2 linked regions of the Homo sapiens genome follow. The protein of the gene in region 2 interacts with the protein of the main gene of each other region in a pairwise test. Each region holds a gene or a part of one and is shown on either strand. Other genes may lie near its edges. The genes, in order: PTCH1 and CD200R1.

The links.
Region 1: the proteins of CD200R1 (region 2) and PTCH1 interact in binary tests that used the Homo sapiens proteins (3 or more experiments, as listed by UniProt).

What each region holds. Positions count from the first base shown.
Region 1 is NC_000009.12:95,464,267-95,474,911, forward strand, and holds part of PTCH1 (protein patched homolog 1), read right to left. Parts: intron 5,754-10,645; exon of another isoform or gene 5,666-5,753; coding exon 5,547-5,665; exon of another isoform or gene 4,888-5,546; coding exon 4,485-4,887; exon of another isoform or gene 4,393-4,484; intron 3,181-4,392; exon of another isoform or gene 3,160-3,180; coding exon 2,850-3,159; exon of another isoform or gene 2,663-2,849; intron 1-2,662.
Region 2 is NC_000003.12:112,924,400-112,941,279, reverse strand, and holds part of CD200R1 (cell surface glycoprotein CD200 receptor 1 isoform a precursor), read left to right. Parts: intron 1-10,108; coding exon 10,109-10,174; intron 10,175-11,772; coding exon 11,773-12,090; coding exon of another isoform or gene 12,091-12,137; exon of another isoform or gene 12,138-12,215; coding exon 12,216-12,464; intron 12,465-16,086; coding exon 16,087-16,195; intron 16,196-16,744; coding exon 16,745-16,790; intron 16,791-16,880. UniProt on the Homo sapiens protein: Inhibitory receptor for the CD200/OX2 cell surface glycoprotein. Limits inflammation by inhibiting the expression of pro-inflammatory molecules including TNF-alpha, interferons, and inducible nitric oxide synthase (iNOS) in response to selected stimuli.

The sequences.
Region 1 (10,645 bases), on a different chromosome or scaffold from region 2:
CAAGGTACGACCCTGGATACAAAACAAGGGATAAGGTTGGGTTTCCACTGCCCTTTAGCCAGTGCTTCATATTCCAATGCATGCACACTCTAGAAAATTGTGACTTTTTACTTATTTTACAGCAAACCTTAATATCTTAGCTAGAAGTTCTCCTCTTATGAATATTTTGTGTCAATAATTATTTTCTAATGTAAAGTTCTAGGCCAAAGGAATAACCCCAATTGCCCATTTTCCTTCAGCTATGGGACCCTAGAAGTAAAATGTTAATCAAAATTTTGTTTGCATAATCCAGTGTGAAATAAAAATGAACACATTTGTACATGACTCGAGGCATGGTTTTTATCTGACTCTGCCTTATTTGCATGTATGTTTTAAGATGTGACATGTGGGATAGTTTTGAAATTAACCATTATATAGTTTTAGGAGTAAAAAAAATCAAAGACAAACTATTGTAATGTCGATAAAGACCAATGAGATGACATAGTTTTAATGGGAATTCCATTAAAAACCAATGAGGCTCCCACCATTTAAAAGCCACACAAAAATGTCAGCAAGGAAAGCTGACTCAAGGATAATTGTTTCCTTGTAGAAAATGTTCAAACACCACATCAACCATTCAACAGGCCTGAAAAACGTGTAGGCAGCAAAGGGCTCCAGTGTCTGGTCATTCTGTGTTGAGTGCTCTAGCGGACCCTGTAAGAGTCAGTCATGGAGTCCCAGGGCTGCCTGGGACCCTGATTGCTTAGCACCAATGGATCTCACTTGGTCTAGGTGTATGCTGTTCACACAGCAATCAAAACATGATTCAAATGCACCTTAAAAAAAAAAACTCAACTCCAGCTGATTTACATCTATAAAGGAAGAAACGTATAGAGATGATCTACAATGCTCTATAAAAAGGTTAACCCTTTGCACTGCCTCGAGACAATCCCCCTTTACCCCCTTCCCAATCCCTGCCTAACATGCCACATTGAGCCTCCAGAGCAATGGCCAAAGACACTGAAATACACTCTACAATAACCCTTCTCTGCTCACAGACTGGCAGGGCACAGCAGATCTCTTTGTCATTTGTGGCAAGTTATTTATATGTCTTTGGTCAATGGGGGGAAAATGAAAGCAGGGACTCTCTCCACTGTCTCTCTTTTAACTCATTATCCCAAAAACCATTGCTTTCTAAACTAAATGTGAAAAATAAAACTTGGAACAAATTCACGTTCGTCTCAGGAGGGTGTTAATAAATAATAATCATGGCATGTTCTCTGTACCTTCCTCCAAAAGGAAAGTCAAATTGGGTGTACATGTAGACACAAAGTTCTGGTAAACACAAGTCAAGGCCAGAAGCTGTATGGAACCATCCTCTACCAACCTCAAGTTGTTGACCATTTCCTGCAAACTCTCAGGGAAACTGGCTGCTGAGTCTTTACATACAAGTGTATTGACTTCAGACCAAAAAAGGCACTTACATCTGTGTTTAAACAAGCCTAATTAAGTGGGAAATTAAGACAATCATTTGGATAATCCAAGCCAAAAAATGTTGGGGGCCATAATGATTTGGTACTCCAGTAAAAGTGTTTTGCTTGAATTGGGTGGATAATTATCCTGATTCTCTACTTGGCTTTGCATGTGTCAATGCAGAATAAATGAACAGATGTTCCTGGAATCACTGCATACATTTACGTGCAGTCGGTCAGGAGAAAATTTAGACTTTTTTTTCCCCTCCAGCTGATGAATATTTCCTAGAAACATTTCTAAGAGTGAAGAAGCCAATAAAGGCACTGTTATTTATTTATTATTTTTGGAGATGGAGTCTCGCTCTTGTCGCCCAGGCTGGAATGCAATGGCACAATCTAGGCTCACCGCAACCTCCACCTCCCAGGTTCAAGCGATTCTCCTGCCTCAGTTTCCTGAGTAGCTGGAATTACAGGCACCCACCAGCACGCCCAGCTAATTTTTGTATTTTTAGTAGAGAGCTGGTTTCACTAGTAGGCCAGGCTGGTCTCGAACTCCTGACCTCAGGTGATCTGCCCGCCTTGGCATCCCAAAGTGCTGGGATTACAGGCGTGAGCCACTGTGCCCCACCAAGAAAGGCATTTTAAAACAGAATTTAATTATTTATAAAATAATGTGAAATGTTACTAAGCATTTATAACTTTACTTCAAGTACCAAATCAAAAAATGGTCAAAATGAACCCAACCGTAAACTATGGAGCCTGGGTAATAATGTGCAGGTTCATCAGCTGTAACAAATGCATCCCTCTGGTGCGGGATGTTTACAGTCGAGGGGGCTGTGTGTGGGTGAGGAAGGGGGATATGGGCCATCTCAGCACCTTCTGCTCAATTTTCCTGGGAACCTAAAACTGCTCTAAAAACAAAGTCAATTAGAAATAGATAATTTTTAAAGAGATGGTCAAAATATGGAGTGTAAGACTATGTCCACTGCTTATCTAGCATCTCCTGGTGCAGTAAGCTATAATTTGGCAATCAGTCTGGAAATCCCAGCCGCACTTTGATTTTATGTGGTCACCAAACTAGCCACCGTCTATCCAAGAGGAAAGAGCACCAGAAGCCTCGGCTCCACCTGTTACAACATGCTCCCCTTTTCCTGACGTGCACTTGTACATTCTCACAGAAGCTCATCTGAATTATCTGCATCATTTTATAGGTAAAAGCCAGATCTGGGAGGCTGCTGCAGAAACAGTTCATGTAAGAATCTTGAGCAACTCTTAAAAGTCCATGAAACACGTCAGTGTTACATTCTAATCTAACGCTCTCATAATCATGACAAAGGAACCTGTTGAAGCTGAACACGCAAAAGACCGAAAGGACGAGAGCCTCCCACGCCGTCTTACCCTGAAGCCAGTCTCTGAAGTAGTGCAGCCACATTTTGGGAAGCTGTTTGTTTTCTTCCAACATGACATACTTCACGTTACTGAAACTCCTGTGTAGGTCGTAAAGTAAGTGCTGGATATTCGGGTAGTCTGCTTTCTGGGTGACTATATACATGTTGTAGAAAGAAAAGTATTTGAATTGTGCAGCAATAAAGTCATATTCTCTGGTTTCCCGAGGTACAATGTCCGTAAGGTCCAGCCCGTCTCTCACTCGGGTGGTGCCATAAAGGCTGACCCCCAGCAAGCCCAGAAAAAGGAAGATCACCACTACCTGGAACAGAAGAGGCACAAGGTCAGACCCCAGGGAGCACCACTGACTCTTCCTGGACAAAGAGAAGCTGTCTAGTTAATACCTTGTTTTCACCACCACACTTAAACTGATTTATCTTGTAGGGGTTGTTCTCCCATAGGAAAAAGGATAAAATCATAGTAATCGCATTTTTATTTTGTTTTGTTTTATATATAATTTTTTGAGACAGTCTTGTGTTGCCAAGGCTGGAGTGCAGTGGTGCCATCTCGGCTCACTGTAACCTCCACCTCCCAGGTTCAAGCAATTCTCGTGCCTCAGCCTCCCAAGTAGCTGGGATTACAGGTGTGCACCACCACGCCTGGCTATTTTTTTTTGTATTTTTAGTAGAGACAGGGTTTCACCATGTTGGCCAGGCTGGTCTTGAACTCCTGACCTCAGGTGATCCACCCACCTCGGCCTCCCCAAGTGCTGGGATTACAGGCGTGAGCCACCATGCCCAGCCTTGTTTTGTTATGTATCTGAGTTGGGATCTCACTCTGTCTCCCAGGATGGAGTGCAGTGGCATGATCAGGGCTCACTGTTGCCTCCAACTCCTGGGCTCAAATGATCCTCCTGTCTCAGCTGCCCAAGTAGCTAGGACTACAGGTACACAGCACCATGCCTTTTTTCCCCCTCTCTTTTGAGACAGGGTCTTACTCTGTCACCCAGGCTTGAATGAAGTGGCACCATCACGGCTCACTGTAGCCTCGACTCCCTGGGCTCAGTGACCCTCCCACCTCAGCCTCCTAAGCAGCTGGGACTATAGGCACATCACCATGCCCAGGCAATTTTTTGTAGAGATGGAGTTTCATCATGTTGCCTGGGCTGTTCTCGAACTCCTGGGTTCAAGCAATCCGCTGGCCTTGGCCTCCCAGAGTGCTGGGATTACAGGCGTGAGCCACCACACCTGTCCCTGGCTAATTTTTAAAATATTTTGTAGAGACAGGGTTGGCCTTTGTTGCCTAGGCTGTTCTCGAACTCCTGGCTCAAACAATCCTCCTACCTCAGCCTCCCAAAGCGCTGGGTTAACAGGCATGAGCCACCGCAAGTGGCAATAATCACATTTTTAAACAACCTCATTCATAAAAAGACTTGCTGCATAGAGGTTCACTCCCATGGAAGATGACCTCATTAAAATGGCCCTATGCTCTAAAAGCATTGACTTTTGGAGGACTGAAATGTATCATACTTAAACGAAATTTTTTTTTTTTTAAGGAAAAAGAAGAAAAGTAGAAGCAATCTGATGAACTCCAAAGGTTCTGTTATTTTTTTGAAGACAGGAAGAGCCTTAAGTTGTGGCAGATTACCTTGGCTTTTGGTTTCAAGAGGAAAGGAGCATAGTGCTTCTCAGCAAAAGATGAGAGTGTCCACTTCGTACAGGGGGGCTCGAGGCAGTGGAGGCTGGAGTCGGAGAACTGGGAGAGCAGGTCCCTTGTGGAGCTGGTGCTCTCTGGGCTCTGGCAGCTGAGGGTGTCCTGTGTCACGGTGACGGGCTGCACAGAGATCTCGGAGCGCGGCTCAGCGGTGGTGTAGTACACGTGCGTGTGGGGGTCGTACTCCGTGCGGAGCTGGACAGTGGACTGCATGGTAATCTGCGTTTCATGGGCAAAGCTGTGGCTGCTGTAGGGAGGTGGGGGGCTGTAGCGGGTATTGTCGTGTGTGTCGGTGTAGGCCTGAGGTTCAACCTGAATCACTCTGCTGACGCAGGGGCTGAAAGGAGGGGAAACATGTTGCAATGTTATGCTGAAACAGGGAAATGGTGCTTTCATTCTGCCATTTTTCACTGTGTACGGAGAATACCCATTTTACACAGCTCTGACTTAGGAGAGAAACATCACATTGCTGAATTCCAGAAACATCGCCTGGTTGATAACATCACCTGGTTCATCGCCTGGTGAACTAGATAAAAGTCAGTCTGAGGAGGCCACATGGAGGACTGATCCTAAATTTGGCTTTCAAAAGCAAGTTCCATGATGATGAATCCTTCAAAGCACAATTCCAAACAAAACCAAACCACCATCAAAGGACTATATATTTTCTAGATGGGTGTTTTTCAATCTTGTTCTGCTCTAATGCAGAGATATGAAACATTCCTACAATCGGCAACATCAGTTCATGATGGAAAAAGGGGTCATCGGAACCAGCATCTTGAGGGCTGTGAGACTGTTCAGCTGCGGCAGGGGAGAAGGAAGCCCAGGGACTCTGATGTCCCCCTAGGGAAGCAGCCTCTGTCCAATCTCTCCCCTACGTTCTCCACACCAGCACAAACCCCGTTACCCACATTCCTTTATAAGTCCACAGGCTGAAAGAGTTCTCTCACAGCACCATTCTGCACCCAATCAAAAGGCCACAGCAGTCTGAAAATGTACCTTGTAAAACAGCAGAAAATATCCAGTCTCCTGTCCTCGCGTCGATATAAATCCATGCTGAGAATTGCAGGAAAAATGAGCAGAACCATGGCAAAATTGAACACCACTACTACCGCTGCCTGGGAGCAGAAAAAAAATTCAGAGGTCACCAACATGCCTCCGCCCAATCAGAGGACTGCTTCGAAAATAAAGATGCTTTTAAACAATATTTTTCTTTCCCTTTCCTCTTGAAGCATTTGAAACCGTGACAGATGTTAAGAGTTTCTTTTGCTACATCATCAAGAGCCTATTTGATAGGAATAGTCTTGACTGTTTCTGGGCCTTTCTATCTCTAATAATTCCATAAACCGATAAGGCACAAACCTGGGAACTAAACTACTAACGTGTTGCTAGTAACCTAACCAAACCAAATCCACAAAGGCAGAACAGAGAGCACACTCGAGATAGAATTTAAAACAAACAGAAGCAGTTCCCTTCCAGAATGCTTCCAAGAGGTCACGCGACCCTGATTTTACAGTTAAACATTTTTATATAAAGTGGATCGAGTATATCAAAATGTCCCCCTTTAAAACGTGAAATACAATTTCACACGTGTCCCCTGAGGTTTTAATAGGCACATTCCAAATTGCCTCTGGAGTAGCCTGTGGGGTGTGAGAGCAAGAAACATAAAAGGTCAAGGAGAGTTAAGCAGAAAGAAATTCCTGTGTGTGATTATAGTACGCAGAATAAATAAGTACAGATTCAAAAGTCACTCCATAACCTAGAATAAACACAGGGCTAAATTCTGCAGTGCGTTGGCAAATCTTCTGCTGACCTAGTAAAAATTACAAAATTGGGCTGTTAATAGGGGAAGCCAACAGAAGCCGGTGGAAGTCGACCCAGCTCGGAAGGGCACGGCAGAAGGGGCACCACAGAGAAAAGCACTGGCAATGCTGAGGAGCCAGGAAATTGCCAGACATGGCTTTGAAAATAAAAAACGAGGCCAGGCGCGGTGGCTCACGCCTATAATCCCAGCACTTTGCGAGGCTGAGGTGGGTGGATCACGGGGTCAGGGATCTCCTGATCAAGACTATCCTGGCTAACACGGTGAAACCCCGTCTCTACTAAAAACACACAAAAAATTAGTTGAGTGTGGTGGCACATGCCTGTAGTCCCAGCTACTTGGGAGGCTGAGGCAGGAGAATTGCTTGAACCTGGGAGATGGAGGTTGCAGTGAGCCAAGATTGCACCACTGCACTCCAGCCTGGGTGACAGAGTGAGAGTCTGTCTCAAAAAAAAAAAAGAAAGAAAGAAAGAAAGAAAATAAAAAACGAGGCTTCTCAAAGAACTGCTTAGTTCACAAATCTCAAACTGATAAACGTCCTAGGGTGAGGAAAGAAAACCTGGCTATAACTGCCACCTAACACAATCCAGGGAGAACTTCCACAAAGGGCTTTGGATGGGAATTGTGAGTTTATGCTGAAGGTGAACCAGCAAGCCTGAGTTCCGGAGAGATGTCTTCCAATAATTAATTCCCTCTCAAGAGCGTTCTTCTAAAAACTACCTAACCTCTTTCTTCTTGGTCTATCTTGAAAATCCTTCATCAACTGAAAAATATGAAGCATGTTAGCTTACCACTCTAATGTATTTAAGACCTGTCTGATAGACCTACACAAATAAGCTCATCACCACTGTGACAAGAGAATTTACCTGAGAAAGAGAGAGATCTTTTAAAAAGAAAAGTCTAGTACTGTGCTGGGTGCTGGAGACACAAAGATAAATAAGACAAAATCCTACTCTCAATTCTCACAGAGCCAGACCTATACACAAATGACAATCTCGAATGATGGATGGCGTCATGAAGGCAGGTGTCAGGCTGCAGAGCAGCTCAGTGGGGTGGAGGGGTGGTCAGTCAAGGCAGGCTTCCCGGGAGAGGCTTCAGCAGGGTTTATAAGATGAAAAAGAGGGCCGGGCACAGTGGCTCATGCCTGTAATCCCAGCACTGTGGGAGGCCGAGGCGGGCAGATCACCTGAGGTTGGAGTTCGAGACCAGCCTGACCAACATGGAGAAACCCATCTCTACTAAAAACACAAAGTTAGCCAGGCGTGGTGGCGCATGCCTGTAATCCCAGCTACTCGGGAGGCTGAGGCAGGAGAACTGCTTGAACCCAGGAGGCAGAAGTTGTGGTGAGCCGAGATCGCACCATTGCACTCCAGCCTGGGCAACAAGAGTGAGACTCCGTCTCAAAAAAGAAAAGCAAAAGAGATCAGTCAGGAGCAGGGGAATGGCAGGTGCTCCCTGTGAAAAAAACACAGAGTGTGCAAGAGGAGACACCTGGCTCAAGCACCTCAGTACTGCTGGGGTTTGAAATTCACTTTGGGGAAGAGAAAGGAGAAGCTATGAAGATCAGATCGTTCATACCTGATTCATAGCAAACAGGAGGTTCTCACTGCTCTTGACAGTATTACCTGATAAAGTCCCCGAAGTGCGGTCAAGTCACCTGCCTGAGGTTATCCAGTAAATCAGATCAAACAAAGACTTGATGCCAAGCCCCTAGCTCAGCTGAGAACCGGGAGTTTTGTGAGATCTGGTCCCTTACTGAGAGGACGTCTGTGGACGGGGTTAGGACACCTGACCGTGAGACAGCAGGGGATGGCAGGAAGAACAGGTAGGATTCTAACGGAGATTTTCCAGATGTCATCCTGGGGGCCGAATCCTTTTAGCTTTTAAAATCAGTCATGTTTAGAATGGAGGAGTGGAATGTAGAGAAGAGACCCTGGGCATCCCAATTTGGACAGGTGTTCATGAGGATGAGGAGAGCAGAGGTTCGTGACACAGGGAGCCCCACGGGCACAGGCATGGGCACCAGCCGGCCTCATCGGTCAGAGAAGCCTGCTGGGCACCTTGCTCCGTGTCCATGACGGAAATGAAGGGATGAGGGAAGAACCCCAAGCAGCGTCCCATCTTACTGACTTTCTCATAACCTACTACATGTATGGCGGAGTATTTTCTCAGTGCCAGGTCCCCAGGTGTACACCAAAATAGTAAAACAACCAGCAAGGGCTGCTCAGAAAGCAAGAAGGGTTGTCGCAAAGGCAAGAGAGTGTAAGTAAACCAGAGAAGATGATGGGGATGATACTGCAACTGTGAATCAATTCTAGTTATTGTACTCATAGGAAATGCCCCATCCCCTCAAAGCAGCTAAGGCTGGGACACATGCAGAGGAGGTTCCACTTGAACCCTCCTAGACCAGACAGAACAACAAGGGGTTCTGTTCTGTGAGTTTTCATTGAAGAATAAACACTACTGGGCTACCAGCAAGCCCTAGTTAATTACAAAGAATTACAGCTGATGCCAGTGATTTCTGGTGTAGAGATGGCATTTAGGCAGATGGATAAAGGCTGATGAGGTTTAAGACAGTTTCCTTGTGGAAAAAAATATCTAATTATTTGGTCAGGCTACAAAATTGGAGGAGTTTTATATGGAAAATTCTGAAGGTAACGCAGGTTTACTATTGGACAGAACCGCCTTGGGTCACTCCCTTTTGATGTTTAATCTGTAGCATCTTGCAAATATAAACACAACTGAACACCCAGAGTCAAACCTGATACTGTTCATCAATGGAAAGAGAAGCTACATAATGGCCAATTTTGAGGGTCAATACATTTAAAAGAGAACCAGGGAAAATTTTCTGATGGCCACTGCAAAAATCATTGCACACTCTCTCTTTTCTTTGCATTTTCTATCCTATTTTTTTTTTTTTTTTTTTTGAGACAGAGTCTTGTTCTGTCACCCAGGCTGGAGTGCAATAGCACGATCTCAGCTCACCGCAACCTCCGCCTCCCGGGTTCAAGCGATTCTCCTGCCTCAGCCTCCCGAGTAGCTGGGATTACAGGCGTGAGCCACCGCGCCCGGCAAATTTTGTATTTTTAGTAGAGACGGGGTTTCACCATGTTGGCCAGGATGGTCTCGATCTCCTGACCTCGTGATCCACCCGTCTCGGCCTCCCAAAGTGCTGGGATTACAGGCGTGAGCCACCGTGCGAAGCACTCCTTTTTTCTTTTGACAGAGAATTAACCAGTGTCATGAGGAGGTATTCTTCAGTAAGATGAGGACTCTTGGAAGCTATAGTTGCAATTTTCTACAGTGATACTGTGGTGCTTTGAAACAGAAACACAAAAACCAACAGTACTCATTTTTGTCTCTGTAAGGTGCTTACCTTGGGAGAATTTAGCGCACTGGATTTTCTACAAGGCTACTCCTCGTAAGGAAACCTCATGTAGCTTTTCAGACCACCACACCACAGGGTATCATTAAAGGAGAGTCGGCCTCGATGAGCCATCAGTATGTACTAAGAGAGGAGAGGAGAGAATGAGAGAGAAAAGAAGAAAAGAAGGAGTATGAGCAGATACAGAAAGACAGTGAGCAAAAAGGCAAGCAGAAAAGAAGGGGAGAGGAGAGAGAATGGGCAGACAGGGTCCCATGACTAAAAGACTCTAGAACAGTTTCTCAATACCAGCACCGGCTGCACGTGAAATGAGACTGGGGTACCACAGGGTGCTGAGCAGACACACACCTGCGCACAAAGGCATTCTACAACTTCAGCTGCACTGCGAGTCTGGTTCACCTTTCATGCCACTGAGCAATCAGAGAGAGTTTCCTTGTCCTGTGCTTTGGTTCGAGCATCAGATCTGAACGTTATTCATTGATTCACTATTTTTACTTCTATATAAATTTATAATATAAATAAACCCTGTTTTCTTTTCTTTTTATGTTTCTTTTGGGGCTGGCGGTTACGGTAATTGGCATAGAATCTTTTCTCCAGCTGTGCCTCACACTAAATACTAAAGATGCCTCCATTCCCAAACCCAGTAGGATCAGTAGTTGCCCAGGCCTCTTGGTTACTAGCGAAATGACATTCAAATACGTGATTGATTGGTTCCTCTTACATGACAAATGGAAAGACTAGGAAAGAGCTAAACATATTGACAAAATATAAACAGAAACCAGATGCAAGACTGGTCAATTTCTCTTCCTGCTCGCATCTGCAGGAACTCTTGGTGAGTAGAGTAAAGCTGTGTGAGTGTGCCGGGCATCCTAACAACAAGTGAAAAAGTGA
Region 2 (16,880 bases):
TATGTAATATATTATTGTGAACTATAGTCATCCTACAGTACTATAAAACAATAGAACTTGCTCATCCTACCTAGCTATAATTTTGTGCCCTTTAACAAATTTCCTCTATTCCCCCCTTTCCCTTACCCTTTGTAGTCTATAGAAGCCTGTGTTCTGCCTTTTACTTCTATGAGACCAACTTTTTTTAAACTTCTGCATAGAATGAGAACATGTGATGTTTGGCTTTTTGTTCTTGGCTTATTTCACTCAACATAATATCCTCCGGTTCCATCCATGTTGCTGTGAATGACAAGATTTCATTTTTTATGGCTGAATAGTATTCCATTGTGTATATATACCACATTTTCTTTATCCATTCATTTGTTATTGGGCGTTTGGGTTGATTTCCTGTCTTGGCTATTGTGAATATTGCTGTAATAAACATAGGGGTGCAGATAGATATTTCTTTAACATATTTATTTCCTTTCCTTTGAATAAATGTTTACGAGCAAGATTGCTGGATCATATGACATTTCTATTTCTAATTTTTTTAGGAACTTCCATACTATTCTTCATAGAGACTGTATTAGTTTACATTCCTATCAGTGATTTATAAGAATTCCCTTTTCTTTGCATCCTCACCAACATTTATTTGTGTCTTTTTGATAATAGCCATTCTAACTGGGGTGAATGATATCTCCTTGTGATTTTAATTGACATTTCCTTGATGATTAGTGATGTTGAGCACTTTTTCATGTATTTGTTAACCATATGTATGTCTTCTGTTCAGAAATATCTGTATCAATTACCCATTTTTAAGTTAGTTTTTCTGTTATTGTGGAGATATTTGAATTCCTTGTATATCTGGATATTACTCTTTTGTTGGATGAATATTTTACAAATATTTTATCCCATTCTGTAAGTTTATTCATTCTGTTTATTGTTTTGCTGTGCAGAAGGTTTTTAGTTTTATATAATCCCATGTGTTTATTTTTGCTTTAGTTACCTATGCTATTGAGGTCTTATTCTTAAAATTATTTCTCAGATCAATGTCCTGAAGTATTTCATCGGTGTTTTCTTCTAGCAGTTTTATAGTTTCTGGTCTTATATTTAGGTCTTCAATGAATTTTGAGTTGATTTTTGTATGGGGTGAGAGGCAGGAGGTCTAGTTTCATTCTTCTGCATATGAATATTCAGTTTACCCAGCGCCATTTATTAAAGAAGGTGTCCTTTCCCAAATGTATGTTCTTGACATCTTTGTCAAAGCAGTTGACTGTATATATGTGGACTAATTTCTGGGTTCTCTATGCTGTTCCATTTTTCTATGTGTCGGTTTTTATGCCAGTACCATGCTGTTTTGATTAGTACAGCTTTATGGTATATTTTGAAGTCTGTTAGTGTGATGCCGCAGCTTGTTTTTTTTTTTTTTTTGGTTTGTTTGTTTTTTGCTCAGTATGGGCTTTGGCTGTTTCGGGTCTTTTGTGGTTCCATGTAAATTTCAGGATTTTTTTTCTATTTTTGTTAAATGAAATGACACTTCATTGGTATCTTGATAGTAATTACATTTATTCTGTAGACTACTTTGGGTAGTATGGGCATTTTAACAATATTAGTTATTCTAGTCCATGAATATGGGATGTCTTTCTATTTTTTGTGTCTTCTTAAATTTCTTTCTGCAGTGTTGTATGGCTTTACTTGCAGAGATCTTTCATCTCCTTGGTTAAATTCATTCGTAGATATTTTATTCATTCATTTATATATTTTTGTAGCTATTGTAAATGGGATTGCTTTCATGATTTCCTTTTCATCTGGTTTGTTGTTTGTGTATAGAAATGCTACTAAGTTTTGTCTATTGATTTTGTATGCTGCAACTTTATTGAATTTGTTTATCAGTGTTAACAGTTTTTTGGTGCAGTCTTTAGGGTTTCTCTATATAAGATAATTTTATCTGGAAACATGGACAATTTGACTTCCTCCTTTCTAAATTGGATGTACTTTACTTATTTATTTTTCTTGCCTAATTTCTCTGGGCCAGACTTCCAGTACTATCTTGAATAACAAGGGTGAGAGTAGGCACTTTTTCTTCTAATTCTTCTTCTAATTCTTAAAAGCTGAAAGCTTTTCCCCATTTAGTATAATATTAGCTACATGGCCTATAGATGGCCTTTATTGTGTTGAAGTACTTTCTTCTGTACCTAATTTATTGAAAGTTTTTAGTGATGAAGGGATGTTGAATTTTATAAAATGCTTTTTCTGATCATATGATATTAAAATAATCACCTAGTTTTTGTTCTTCATTTTGTTGATGCAATGTATCACAAATATCGATTTGCATATGTTGAACCATCCTTGCATATCTGAGGTGAATCTCACTTGATTATGGTGCCTGATGTTTTTGATGTTCTGTTGAATTCATTTGCTAGTATTTTATATATATGTTTATTAGTAGTATTGGCTTGTGCTTTTCTTTTTTGCTGTGTCTTATCTGGTTTTTGTATCACAATCATGCTGGGCTTGTCAAATGAGTTTTGACATTCGATGACATTCAAATGAGTTTTACATTCAATTTTTTGGAATAGTTTGAAGTATTTCATCTGTGTATCAAGGACTGGTATTAGTTCTTTAAAAGTTTGGTAGAATTCAGCTGTGAAGCCATTTGTTCCTGGACTTTTCTTTGTTGGGAGACTTTTCATTACTAATTCAATCTCATTACTCATTATTGGACTGAGGTTTTCCATTTCTTGTTGGTTTAAAGTTGTTAGGTTGTCTGTATCCGGGAATTTTTCAGTTTTCTCTAATCTTTTGAATTTATTCATGTGTAGTTGTTCATAATAGTTTCTAATGGTCTTTTGTATTTATGTAGTCTCTGTTATTATGTCTCCTTTTTGTTTCTGATTTTATTAATTTGGTTTTTTCTCTTTTTTTCTTTATTCATCTAGCTAATGGCTTGTCAATTATGTTAATCTTTTTACAAACCCACAGCTCATATCATACTGAATGGGCAAAAACTAGAAGCATTCCCCTTGAAAACTGGCACAAGACAAGGATGCCCTCTCTCACCACTTCTATTTAACATGGTATTGGAAGTTGTGGCCAGGGTAATCATGCAAGAGAAAGAAACAAAGAAAATTCAAATAGGAGGAGAGGAACTCAAGTTATCTTTGTTTGCAGATAACATGATTCTATATCTAGAAAACCCCATCATCTCAGCCCAAAAGCTTCTTAAGCTGATAAGTAACTTCTGCAAAGTTTCAGGATCCAAAATCATTGTGCAAAAATTGCTAGTATTCCTATACACCAACAACAGACAAGACAAGAGCCAAATCATAAATGAACGCCCATTCACAATTGCCACAAAAGAATAAAATACCTAGGAAAACAACTAACAAGGGAAGTGAAGGACCTCTTTAAGAAAAACTATAAACTGCTGCTCAAAGAAATCAGAGATGACACAAACAAATGGAAAAACAGTCCATGCTCATGGATAGGAAGAATCAATATTGTGAAAATGACCATACTGCCCAAAATAGTTTATAGATTCAGTGCTATTCCCATTAAGCTACAATTGACATTGTTCACAGAATTAGAAAAAACAGTTTTAAAATTCATATGGAACCAAAACATAACCCAAATAGCAAAGGCAATTCTCAGCAAAAAGAACAAAGCTGGAAGCATCATGCTACCTGACTTCAAACTATACTATAGGGCTACAGTAATCAAAACAGCATGGTAGTTGTACGAGAACAGACACATAGACCAATGGAACAGAATAGAGAACCCAGAAATAACACCGCACACCTACAACTATCTTATCTTTGACAAACCTGACAGAAACAAGCAATGGGGAAAGGATTCCCTATTTAATAAATGGTGCTGGGACAGCTGGCTAGCCATATGAAGAAAATTGAAAGTGGACCCCTTCTGATATGGTTTGGCTGTGTCCCCACCCAAATCTCATCTTGAAATGTAGTTTCTATAATCTCCATGTGTCATGGGAGGGACCTGCTGGGAGGTAATTTAATCATGGGGGGCAGTTACTCTCATGCTGTTCTCATGATAGTGAGTGAATTCTCATGAGATTTGACGGTTTTATAAGGGGCTTTTCCTCCTTTTGCTTGGCACTTCTCCATGCTGCTGCCATGTGAAAAAGGACATGTCTGCTTCCCCTTCTGTCGTGATTGTAAATTTTCTGAGGCCTCCCAAGCCATGCTGAACTATGAGTCAATTAAACCTCTTTCTTTTATAAATTATCCAGTCTTGGGTATGTCTTTATTAGCAGCATGAGAGCAGAGTAAAACACCTTCCTTACATCATGTACAAAAATCAACTCAAGATGGATTAAAGACTTAAACGTAAAACCCCAAACTCTAAAAACCCTAGAAGAAAATCAAGACAATATCATTCAGGACATAGGCTCAGGCAAAGATTTCATGATTTCATGACAAAGATGCCAAAAGCAACTTCAACAAAAACAAAAATTGACAAATGGGATCTGATTAAACTAAAGAGCTTCTGCACAGCCAAAGAAACTATCAACAGAGTAAACAGACAACCTACAGAATGGGAGAAAAGTTTTATAATCTATTCATCTAACAAAGGCCTAATGTCCAGCATCTACAAGGAACTTAAACAAATGTATAAGAAAAAAAGAACCCCATTAAAAAGTGGGTAAGGAACATGAATAGATAATTCTCAAAAGAAGACATACATGCAACCAAGAAACATATGAAAAAAAGCTCAACATCACTGATCATTAGAGAAATGCAAATCAAAACTACAATGAGATACTATCTCACACCAGTCAGAATGGTGATTACTAAAAAGTCCAGAAACAACAGATGCTAGCGAGGTTATGGAGAAAAAGGAACACTTTTACACTGTTGGTGGGAGTGTAAATTAGTGCAACCATTGTGGAAGACAATGTGGTGATTCATCAAAGACATAGAGGCAGAAATACTGTTTGACTCGGCAATCTGATTACTGGGTATATACCCAAAGGAATATAAATAATTCCATTTTAAGGATACATGCACGTGTATGTTCATTGCAGCACTATTCACAATAGCAAAGACATGAAGTCAACCTAAATGCCCATCAGTGATAGACTGAATAAAGAAAATGTGGTACATATATACCATGAAATATTATGCAGCCATGTATAGATGAGTTCATGTCCTTTGCAGGGACATGGATGCAGGTGGAGGTGATTAGATTATCCTCAGCAAACTAATGCAGAAACAGAAAACCAAACAGTGCATTTTCTCACTTATAAGTGGGAGCTGAATGATAAGAACACATGGACATATGGAGGGTGGAAACACACACTGGAGCCTGTCAGAGGGTGGGGAGTGGGAGGAGGGAGAGCATCAGAAAGAATAGCTGATGGATGCTGGGCTTAATACCTCGGTGATGGAATGATCTGTGCAGCAAATCACCATGGCATACATTTACCTAATAAACCTGCACATCCTACCTATATACCCCTGAAGTTAAAATATTGCAAACAGAAAAAACAAAACTTTTTTGTTGTTGGTTTTTTGCATTTCTTTTTAGGTTCAGTTTCATTGAGTTCTGCTCTGATCTTTATTCCTCCTACTAATTTTGGGTTCAGTTTATTCCTGGTTTTCTTCCTTAATATGTGCTGTTAGGATGTTAATTTGAAATATTACTACTTTTTTGATGTAGGGATTTATTGCTATGGATTTGCCTCTTAATGCTGCTTTTGCTGTATCCCTTAGGTTTTGGTATTTTGTGTTTCTATTTTCATTTGTTTCAAGAAATTCTTAAACTTCTTAATTTCTTTCTTTACTCATTTGTCATTCAGGAACATGCTGTTTAACTTTCATGTATTTGTATAGTTTCAAATGTTCCTCTTGTTATTGATTTCTAATTTTATTCCATTGTGGTCACATAAGATGATATGATTGTAATTTTTAAAAATTATTTGAGACTTGTTTTGTGACCTAACATATTGTCAATTCTGGAGAATGTTCCATGTGCTGGTGAAAATAATGTGTATTTTGCAGCTGTTATATAAAATGTTCTGTAAAGGTCTGTTAGGTCTGTTTGATTTATGGTGTGGTTTAGATCCAATGTTTCTTGATTTTCTGTCTAGATCATCTGCCTAATGCTGAAAGTAGGGTGTTGAAGTCCCCACCTATTATTGCTTTGAGGTTTATCTCTCCCTTTAGCTTTAATAATATTAGCTTTATATATCTGGGTGCTCCAACATTGGGTCCATATATATTTCCAATTGTTATGTCGTCTTGCTGAATAAATTCCTTTATTTTTACATAATGTTCTTTTTTATATAGCCTTTGTCTTAAAGTCTGTTTTATCTAATGTAAGTATAGCTACTCCTGCTTGTATTTGGATTCTGTTTGCATGTCTTTTTTCCACTCCACTTTCAGTTTATGTGTGTCTTTACAGGTGAGATGAGTTTCCTGTAGGTGGCATATAGTTGGTTTTTTGAGATGGAGTTTCGCTCTTGTCACCCAGGCTGGAGTGCAATGGCATGATCTTGGTTCACTGCAACCTCTGCTTCCCCGGTTCAAGCAATTCTCCTGCCTCAGCCTCCTGAGTAGCTGGGATTACAGGTGCCCGCCACCATGTCCAGCTAATTTTTGTATTTTTAGTAGGGATGGGGTTTCATCATGTTGGCCGGGCTAGTCTCAAACTCTTGACTTCAGGTAATGCACCCTCCTTGGCCTCCCAAAGTGCTAGGATTACAGGCGTGAGCCACCATGCCCAGCTGGGTCTTATATTTTTAAATCCACTTGGCCAGTCTATATCTTTTAATTGGGAAATTGAATCCATTTACATTCAAGATTATTTGATAGATGAGAACTTACATCTGTCATTTTATTGATTTTTTTTTTCTGCTTGGTGACAGTCTTGCCTTTATTTCTGAAGGATAGTTTTTCTGGATATAATATTCACTGACAGTTATTTTCTTTCAGTACTTTGAATGTATCACTCCATTTTCTCTTGGCCCATAAGGTTTCTGATGAGAAATCTGCTATCAGTATAAGGGGGATTCCCTTATATTTGGCTTGATGCTTTTCTCTTGCGTGTTTTTATCATTCTTCCTTTGTCTTTGCCTTTTGATAATTTGACTATAACATTCCTTAGAGAGGATGTATTTGGGTTAAATCTATTTGGGAAATTTTGAACTTCTTGGATCTGAATCTCTCTCTCTCTCCCAAAACTTGGAAAGTTTTCTGCTATTATTTTATTAAATATGTTTTCTGTGCCTTTTTCTTTCTTTTCTCCTTCCAGAATTTTTATAATGTGAATGTTTTTTGCTTACTGATGTCTCCTAAATCCTGTAAACTTTATTTTTTTAAAATTCTTTTTCTTTTTGTTTTTAAAATCCTCATGTATTATTTCAAAAGACTTGTCTTCAAGTTCAGAAATCCTTTCCTCTACGTTTTCTATGCTGTTGTTGAAAAATCGTATTTTTTATTTCATTCATTGACTTCTTCAGCTCTAAAATCTCTTTTTTTATGATAGCTATCTTTTTGTTGAATTTTTCATTTAAATCACAAATTGTTTTCCTGATTTTATTGAATTGTTTATCTGTATTCTCTTTTATCTCATTGAGTTTCCTTAAGATTATTATTTTGAATTCTTCTTCTGGCATTTCATATATTGCCTTATAATTGGTTATGTTACTGGAGAATTACTGGGTTGATTTGGGGGGTCTATCATATTTTCTTGCTTTTTCATGTTTGATGTGTTTCTATGTTGATACCTACATATCTGGTGCAATTGTCGCCTCTTCTAATTTTATGGTGTAGGCTTCTTAAGAAAAAGCTTATTTATATGTAATCCATTCTAGTGATGTTTGCAAGTGTCCCTATGACCTAGGTGGTGAGTTTGTGGCAGCAGTGGCACAGCTTTGCTGGGAGTTGGTTTGCCAGCCTGCTTTTCAGGTTATGGGTGCTTGTGTGCACATGGTGGGTTACTCAACTTGGCATCTGGCTTGCTGGGTTTGGGACTATGGGGCTCTTACTCTGGCCCTGGGCACAAGCACATGGTTGTTTGGCTATCCTCAGGGCATGTCTGCTAGGGGTGGACCCACTGGGCTGTTTCTTAGGTTCTGGAGTGGGTGGGCAGCCACTCGGCCAGTCTGGGGGCATGTCTGCTGAGAGTGGGCCCACCAGATTATTTCTTAGGCCCTGGGTACAGGTCCCCACCTGCTCAGCTGGTCTGTAGGTATGTCCACCAGGGGCATGCCTGCTGTGCTGTTTCTCAGTTCCTGGGGGTGAATGCACAATCTGTCAGTCTAGGGTTGTTCACAGTAGGGGCCCGCTGGCTGTTTCTCAGGCCCAGGACATAATCATGCAGACACTCAGCTGGCCTGGCTGAGTTTCCACTAGTGGTGGATCCACTGGGTTGTTTCTTAGGCTCTGGTTACAGGCACGGGGCCACTTGGTAGGCCTGGGGTTATATTTGCCAACAGTGAGCTTGTGGGGCTGTTTCTCAGCCGTGGATGTGACTGCTGGGCTGGCCTGGGGGGGATGTCCACTGGGAGTGGATCTGCCCTGCTGTTTCTCAGGCCCCAGTTGTGGGTATGGAACTGATATGTAGGTCTGGGGATGTGTCCTCTGGGAGCGACACCCTTGACAGTTTCCCAGATCCTGAGTGTTGGTGTGGGCTGCTGATTAGTCATGGGGGTGTATCTGCCACATGGAGGGCTCACAGGGCTATTTCTCAGGCCTTGAGTGAGGGCATGGGGCTGCTGGGGAGGCCTGGGGACATGTCTGTGGCCATGTTTGTTGGGGAGGAGGCACAGGACTGTTTCCCAGGCCCTGGGTGAGGATGCATGTACACTCAGCTGGCCTAGGGTTATGTCAGCTGCTGGGTCCTCTCCCCTTCAGGAGAGGGCATGCAGTGGTTTGGCCAGCTCAATGGCAGGTTTGTCCCGGGTAGGACTGCCAGACTGTTTCTCTGGCTGGAAGTGTGGGGAGAGGGGATTGGTTTCCCTACTGTGCAGGACCAGAGTCACAGCCAATCCTGAGCCCAGGCTCCATGCAGCAAATGTATAGCCAGCTGGTGGGCTGGAGAGGTACAGTGGCTACTAGTCCCCAGGACACGGTGTACTTCAAAAGTGGCTCTAGTCCATGGTGGCCCCTTGCTGCAGCAGCTTGGCTCACAGAGGGTGGGTGGGAGGTAGCAGGTGTACACATTGTGCCCCTTATCTGGAGCAGTGCAGCTGTATGAATTCCTGGTAGCACTCCACACTGGGCTCAGGGCTTGTGAGGACTGTGAAATTCTCTTGAAATAACTCTTTTCAGTAGCTATAGGGGCTGGTGGGGTTCTTCTGCTTATGTTTTCCCTGCAAGAGGAAGTCCCTCCTGAGCCTGGGCCAATCCAGGAAGAGGATGTGGAAGGATGGGGTGCCAGAGGCAGGGTGCTTTTATGCTTCCCTCCTGAGCTTCTGATGACCACGAGCTCCTCTCCACTACTTTTCTGCACTCCTGCACTCTCCCTTTGATACTCCAGTAGAATCTTAGCTGTCTATTGCTTGGTCCTTTCTTTTGGAGGAGATGTGCACCAGGGGCCTCTAGTCAGCCATCTTGCTGACATTTGCTTCTGCTATATTTTTCCCTTTGTACTCTAATAAGTAGAAAACAAAATGAGAAAGCAACAGAGATGGATGGCCCCTTCTCAGTTTTGCTTCTAAAATTCTTGAGAAAGGGCACTGCTGTATTAACCTGGGTGAAGTGCCCAACATTGGACCAAATAACTTTGATTGGGAAGTGGTAGCTGAAGAAAGGGATATAATTGGACCAGCTCATGTGAGATGCTCACGTAGACCAATCTCCCTGGCTGAGGAAGAAGGATGCAGTAGAGGCAGGTTTATCTTTTTCAAAATATTTCAAAACAAGGTGTATCACGAAAGAGAAATTATTGATTACTTAAGTATAATTTTCAGGATATTAACACATTTAGTCCCCTAATGATGGCATGACTTCTAATTTCTGTTTTACAATGATTTTTGTGTAATTTTAATTATGGTTAACTGATTGCCTATCATGTTGGATAAGACTTTGTGGAGGGATACTGGCTTCCACTCTGAGTACATAAAATTGATTTCATTTATTCTTCTCTAAATATTTTCTAGCTTCAAGCAGTTTATGTATGGATGAAAAACAGATTACACAGAACTACTCGAAAGTACTCGCAGAAGGTAATATGCTTCCTTACTAGTGGCCAGCACCTAGGGATGGAAAGTTGAACTTCCTTAGAAATATTAGCTAATGACCTGACTGGAAGCCAGCCTTATGACTACTTGAAGAACTTGGTGATCTGAGTACTGTGGTATGAGGGATCCTGAATGACCCAACCTCTAGTTGTTCTCCAAACAAGCCATGTTCTTGCTTGTCTCTGAACCTTTGCTAAGGTGGAGTGGCGGAAGGAGCATGGATTTAACTACCTCTCAGATCTATGTTAAAGTATTACCTCTTTCTTCATCTAGTTATGTACTTATTAATTTGCTGTGAAATGCAAGGGCTAGAGTACAAACCATGTAAGAGACAGGTGACACCAAAACAGGATAGGAAAGATGTTAAATGCAGGGTTTAGCAAAAACATCCTTCACCCACATAAAGGTTTGCCCCTCTATAGCTGATTCTGCTTATGCTATAGTGATGAAATCACTGACACTTACCTTTGTTAGAGGTGAGTAGTGACAAATACTTTGGTGGACTAATCACCTCTCAGTAAACCCTTACCAAGTCACTGACACATTGTGTCGATTTATGGGATGCATGAGGTTCTACGTTGGAAGATGCTTGTAGGATGCAGGGCTTAATTTTTCCTTTAAATGATGGACAACAGGGATCAACTTACGCCTTTAGTGTTGATAATTGGATTGAATATACAGAAATAAAATCTGTGAGCTAAGTTCACAGCTGAACTATCTGAAAGTGTATGTGTGACTAAATAGGAAGGAATGAAAACTCATCCAAAGGCTACATTTGATAATGTCATAAATTTGCAATAAAATATTTTTAATAAAAAATGTCTAAAGGGAAATAAATCGTTTTTTAAAAATTATATATCACACTATATTTTCACAAGAAATAAATATTTCTAAGCATCTCTTATCACAGGGCATTATCATTTTTCATTTTTATGGGATGGCTCAACTGGTGGAATAATAGTTTTTTTTTTTTTAAAGATCTGTGGGTTTCACTGACTTTGTGATTCTTTTTAAAAAAAAGAACTTAAAAAAATTTCTAGCTAGTTCAACCCAAATGCCATATTAGTTACTTTAAAAGAAAGCACTATATATTAATACATACCACATTTATGTTTGTCTGAAACAAAAACCTTAGAGATAGACTTTTTTGTGCTCACCAAAGCTGAGGAGGAGACAGCCACATCACTAATTGTTCCATTTTCTTTCCTGTGGCACATACATTGTATGATAAAGGCAATAGTCTCCACCACCTAAAGATTAGATGTAGAACATTGCCTTTGTTGTTTAATTTACAATTCTCTTTGTTTCTAGATATTAAAACTTCTCCATTAATATAAAAAATACTTTATTATATATCATATTTCTAATAATACATAATACAGGAGAAAATTGGTTAATCTCTAGATTGGGTTCAATATATTATTTATATTTTGAGAATTTTAATTTTTTATGAAGGTCTAATATTTTTGGAATAAGATCACCAACAAAGTTATGTTCTAGTGTAACTTCATATGTTGTGGATAAATGTAACACATGAAGTTCTTTATCAAGCTTTTCTTTTATCATTCTCTTTTCATGTCCAGTTAACACTTCATGGCCTGTAAAGATGGCTACAAATGCTGTGCTTTGTTGCCCTCCTATCGCATTAAGAAATTTGATCATAATAACATGGGAAATAATCCTGAGAGGCCAGCCTTCCTGCACAAAAGCCTACAAGAAAGAAACAAATGAGACCAAGGAAACCAACTGTACTGATGAGAGAATAACCTGGGTCTCCAGACCTGATCAGAATTCGGACCTTCAGATTCGTACCGTGGCCATCACTCATGACGGGTATTACAGATGCATAATGGTAACACCTGATGGGAATTTCCATCGTGGATATCACCTCCAAGTGTTAGGTAAGGAGCATCATATATTGAGGTATTTCACATCACCAGATTTGTGACGGAAACAAATGTCTCTCTGAATTCCATATGCTTTATGTGAAAACCGAAGCATTTTTTTCCCTCTTTCCTCTCTGCAGTTACACCTGAAGTGACCCTGTTTCAAAACAGGAATAGAACTGCAGTATGCAAGGCAGTTGCAGGGAAGCCAGCTGCGCATATCTCCTGGATCCCAGAGGGCGATTGTGCCACTAAGCAAGAATACTGGAGCAATGGCACAGTGACTGTTAAGAGTACATGCCACTGGGAGGTCCACAATGTGTCTACCGTGACCTGCCACGTCTCCCATTTGACTGGCAACAAGAGTCTGTACATAGAGCTACTTCCTGGTCAGTAATTCTTTTAGTTTTATTTTTTATTTTTTTCCATTCTTTTAAAAGAGTTAAGAAAAAAAAAGATGTGCAAATATATTTTGTTCGAGGATGCTCTCCCCACTCTTCATTTTTATCTCTTCCCTGACCAAAATAAAGAGATGAGTTGAGGAGAATAGTACAGACATTTGTTGTAAAAAGCCCTTTTTTAGAATGCAGTTTAATTCTACTATTAATGTTCACTTCTATGCTAGTAGTTAATTAGCATGAGTAGTATACTTTTAAAAATAATACTTATGGCTTATTGAAAGATAAAGTATACTTTGAAGCATGTAATTATGGTTCTATTAGAAGGATACATTTACTCAAAGTTGCTTTTATGAATTTTTAGTTTGTTGTAATTTTGTTTTCTGGACTTTTCATCATTGAATTTCTTAAATGTCTTATAATAACATCTATGATTCATTTAATCACTGTTTAGTTTATTTACTCTCTGCTCTCATCCTACTCTCATTTCTTGTTATTTAAAAACTATTAAATATCAACAAACATATTTAAAGTGCAATTGTTCTGTAAGGCTTCCTGAAAAACATTAGCTCTACCCCTGTCTTTCCAACCCAATTGCCATCTCCATTAAACTCCCCACAGGTAGGTACTTTCAAATTTTCCAGTGTTTCTTCTGGTAATTAGTGCCATTTTTATACAACATGCTCATACTGCTATTTCTTACTGTATCAAATTTAGACATTATGTAATCACAACTTCTTATGGTAGATGAGGATTTCACATTACCTTCTTCCTTTCCTTCAAACTTTAGTTGAGGTAATGCAATTTTTCATTAAATAGCCTATGTTCCCATCAATTTGAATATTTAAGTACTGTTAAGTGCTGAATCAAGAAATACACTCATGCTTTCTCTTTCAAATGACTTTTTTTCCTTGGACTTCATAAGTGCTTTACCTTTTTTGTTTCCTTAAGAATGTATGTACCTATCGTGAACTATCACTAAGCCTATTGACAAAACTAGAGAACCCCTTAGTAATATTTTCTACATGGTCAGATTTATTAGGTAATCTGTTAGTTCTATTTTTTCTCAAAGTCATTCCTTCTTGAGTTTTGGTATGTGTTTGGTCTAATCTCTCCTGATTGGCCTCTAGATCTGCTGTACAGCTATTGTCCTGGACACTCTCATTGCCTCAGTCCTCTACTTAGCCTGTGTCTATTTAATCTGAGTTTCTTCTGTCTTCTATACATTTGTTTGTTTTTAACTCTTTCTTTCATATATGAGACTTTTCTTCACTCTTTGGTAATCCTTGGGTATGGATTCATTTTGAAGTGAGTACTATATGAGCTACTTGGAAGCTCAACTAGTTAATGGTTGGATTTGTCAACTAGTTAGCTTCAGTTCAGTGAAAAGAAGCTGTGATTTTTTAATAACTAGAGATTTGTTATGTATCTGAAGGCCTTTTCTCTGGGGCTGTTCAGGCTCTGCAGAAATTAACTCAGCAGTTTCTGGCCTTGGAGAGATAAGCCTGACTACCAGTGTTTGGGAAAGGAGGGAGCAATATGTGTATGTGTGTGAGTGTGCATGTGAGTGTGCCACTGTTGAGAATCAGACTTCCTTTTATACCTCTCTTCAGTCTGGTATTTCATTCTCACCCTCCCTGATGTCTGGATCCTTGACTTTGGAGTCTCTCCAGTTCATCTTCTTTGGACCAATCTGCCAATCTCCCCTTTTTCTGCTAGTTGGGAAAGGTGTGCTACATAAAATGGAGCAGGAGACAAGGGAACCTGCCTGTTCTCAAGACAAAATTTCAAAGAAGCTCTCAACTTTTAGCCCCACACTTCACCCCTCCACATACTTCTTCTTCTATATTTGATGCTTCCTACTCTAGAGTTTTCCTGGAGTTTTGTGTATACTAAGGTTTGTATTTATTCTATGTTGTAAATCATTAGCGAGTTTTCTATTCATTTCTCACTTAAAAACAGTTCGAAATCTTTCATCTGTTCTTGTCTTCATCCTCTTCTCTTTGTCTTTGCAGATCTACACTAAAAAAAAAATTATTTTTACCAACATTTTAGTAAGTTTTAATGAGGGAGAAGAGAAAATCTCATGTGTTGAAACCACCTTTATTTATATCTATCATTTAAGTCATATGTGTAGGTTTTTTTGAGTTTAGCAATATTTACTGAAAAGAGAAGTTGTGCCTTGGTTATGTGTGAAATATCACCTTTCATATTACTATATGATGTCAGATTTATAGTGTCTCAGAATTGAAGGGAAATTCTCATTCAAATTCCTATGTACAGCAGGGATCTCCTTGATGTCTTCCTTGCACGGTGGATCTTCAGCTTCTGCTAGTACAAATTTAATGAGAGAGAGCTTAGTAGTTTGAAAGCAAGGGTTTTAAAAAATGTTGTTTTAAACAATGTAACCAAACATTTAATTTTCATATAACATATGGAGAAATTCAGTATTTAAAAACATCAACTGTGGAAGAAAGGTGGAAGGACCAGAGGCCAGCCTGCTCAGTCTCCACTTCATCTCCTCTGCTGCCCCTGAGCTATATTCATGCAACACCAGGAGCATAGTTTGCAAATCGTTGCCTCTCAGGCTGGCAATTCCTTGGTTGATTTGCACGCTTGTCAGATAGAGTTTTGTATTGCTGCCAGCAGCTAATAAATAAAGTTCCTGCTGTGTATTCATTTCAGTTTCAATGCCCTGGGAGAAAGATGACTTCAGAATTAGGGTTACTTTTCCAAGTATCTTCCTTACAATTGCCCATTTAGTTGGAGGGGAGAAACACTCTGCTATAACAGAGTGGTAGGAATTCACCACCAATGAATCTTTAAAGCAACAAAACCCTGATATAAGGTGATGTCTTGCTGAAAACTCTGGAGTCTGTATTGAAAAAGCAGTTTTATTTTAATAATTCTCAAACTATTAATGGGGCAGAAGTGTTGAAAATGAAACTACAGATATGAATTTCATGTATTGTGAGACATTATTGAATGATCTATATAGATAGATATGGATATAAATATAGATAACTTTATTTTTAGTAGACATTAATTTTTAGAGCAGTTTTAGGTTCACCGCAAAATTGAGTGGAAAGTACAGAAATTTCCCATATAAGCCCTGCCTTCGCCCATGTCCAACCTCTCCCACCTACACCTGCACCAGAGTGTTACATTTATTAGAACTGTTGAACCTCCATTGATACAACATTACCACCCAAAGTCCATACTTTACATTAGAGTTCATTCTTGGTGTTGTACATTCCATGGGTTTGGACAAATGTGTAATGACATGTATCCACCAGTACAGTATTATATGGAACAGTTTTATTGTCCTACACAATCCTCCTTGCTCTTTCTATTCCTCCCTCCTTCCTCACCACCAGATAATCAATAATTTATTGACTATTCCCCTAGTTTTATCTTTTCCGTAATGTCTTACAATTGGAATCATACAATATGTAACATTTCCAGATTGGCATGTTTCACTTAGTAACATACATTTGAAATTCCTCTATGTCTTTTTATGGTTTGATAGCTCATTTCTTTTTAACATTGAATAATAAGATAGTACATTATTTGGATTGTACCACATTTGAACCATATATTTTTGTGTCTATAGTTCCAGGTGCCAAAAAATCAGCAAAATTATATATTCCATATATCATCCTTACTATTATTATTTTGACCATCGTGGGATTCATTTGGTTGTTGAAAGTCAATGGCTGCAGGTATTGACTAATGAATGTTTTTTTCTTCTTCAGCTTTATTAGGCTAGAAAAGAGTCAGAAATATGGAACTGACCGTATTGGGTATATTAGGATGTTAACATCAAATCTCCCATAATCAAATCTTGAAGGTGTTAGATAGACTTGGACTACTTTGAATGATGAGAGAGACTTTGCTAGGTTGCTTTGGCATAGAAGCATGGAAAATTAGGCCATTTAGGGTAGGATCTTGGGAGAGAAAGTGCATGTTAATTTTCACATTTGGGTAAATAATTACAATTCCTTCATGCACCAAAGAGGAGATGTTACATGCATTCAATTGCATCAAGCTTCTATTGCATAATTTCACTTTTTCAAAATCCGGAATATTCTTAGTTGGGGATATTAACCACGAGCAGTATTCTTCACTTATTTCTAGTAGTTTCTTTCTGATTTATTATGGCTTCTATCAAAATTAAACACAATTGTCAATAGTATACTGTCTTATTTTCCCATTTTCGATCTAAACAATGATGTTTCCTCCATTCACTTCAATTTATTTTATTTTTATAGAAAATATAAATTGAATAAAACAGAATCTACTCCAGTTGTTGAGGAGGTAAGATAAGATAAAAAAGACTAATTGCAAACTTAAGCCAATAGTCTGAAAATCTAGCAACATAATTTGTAGTTTGTATCAATATTAGTG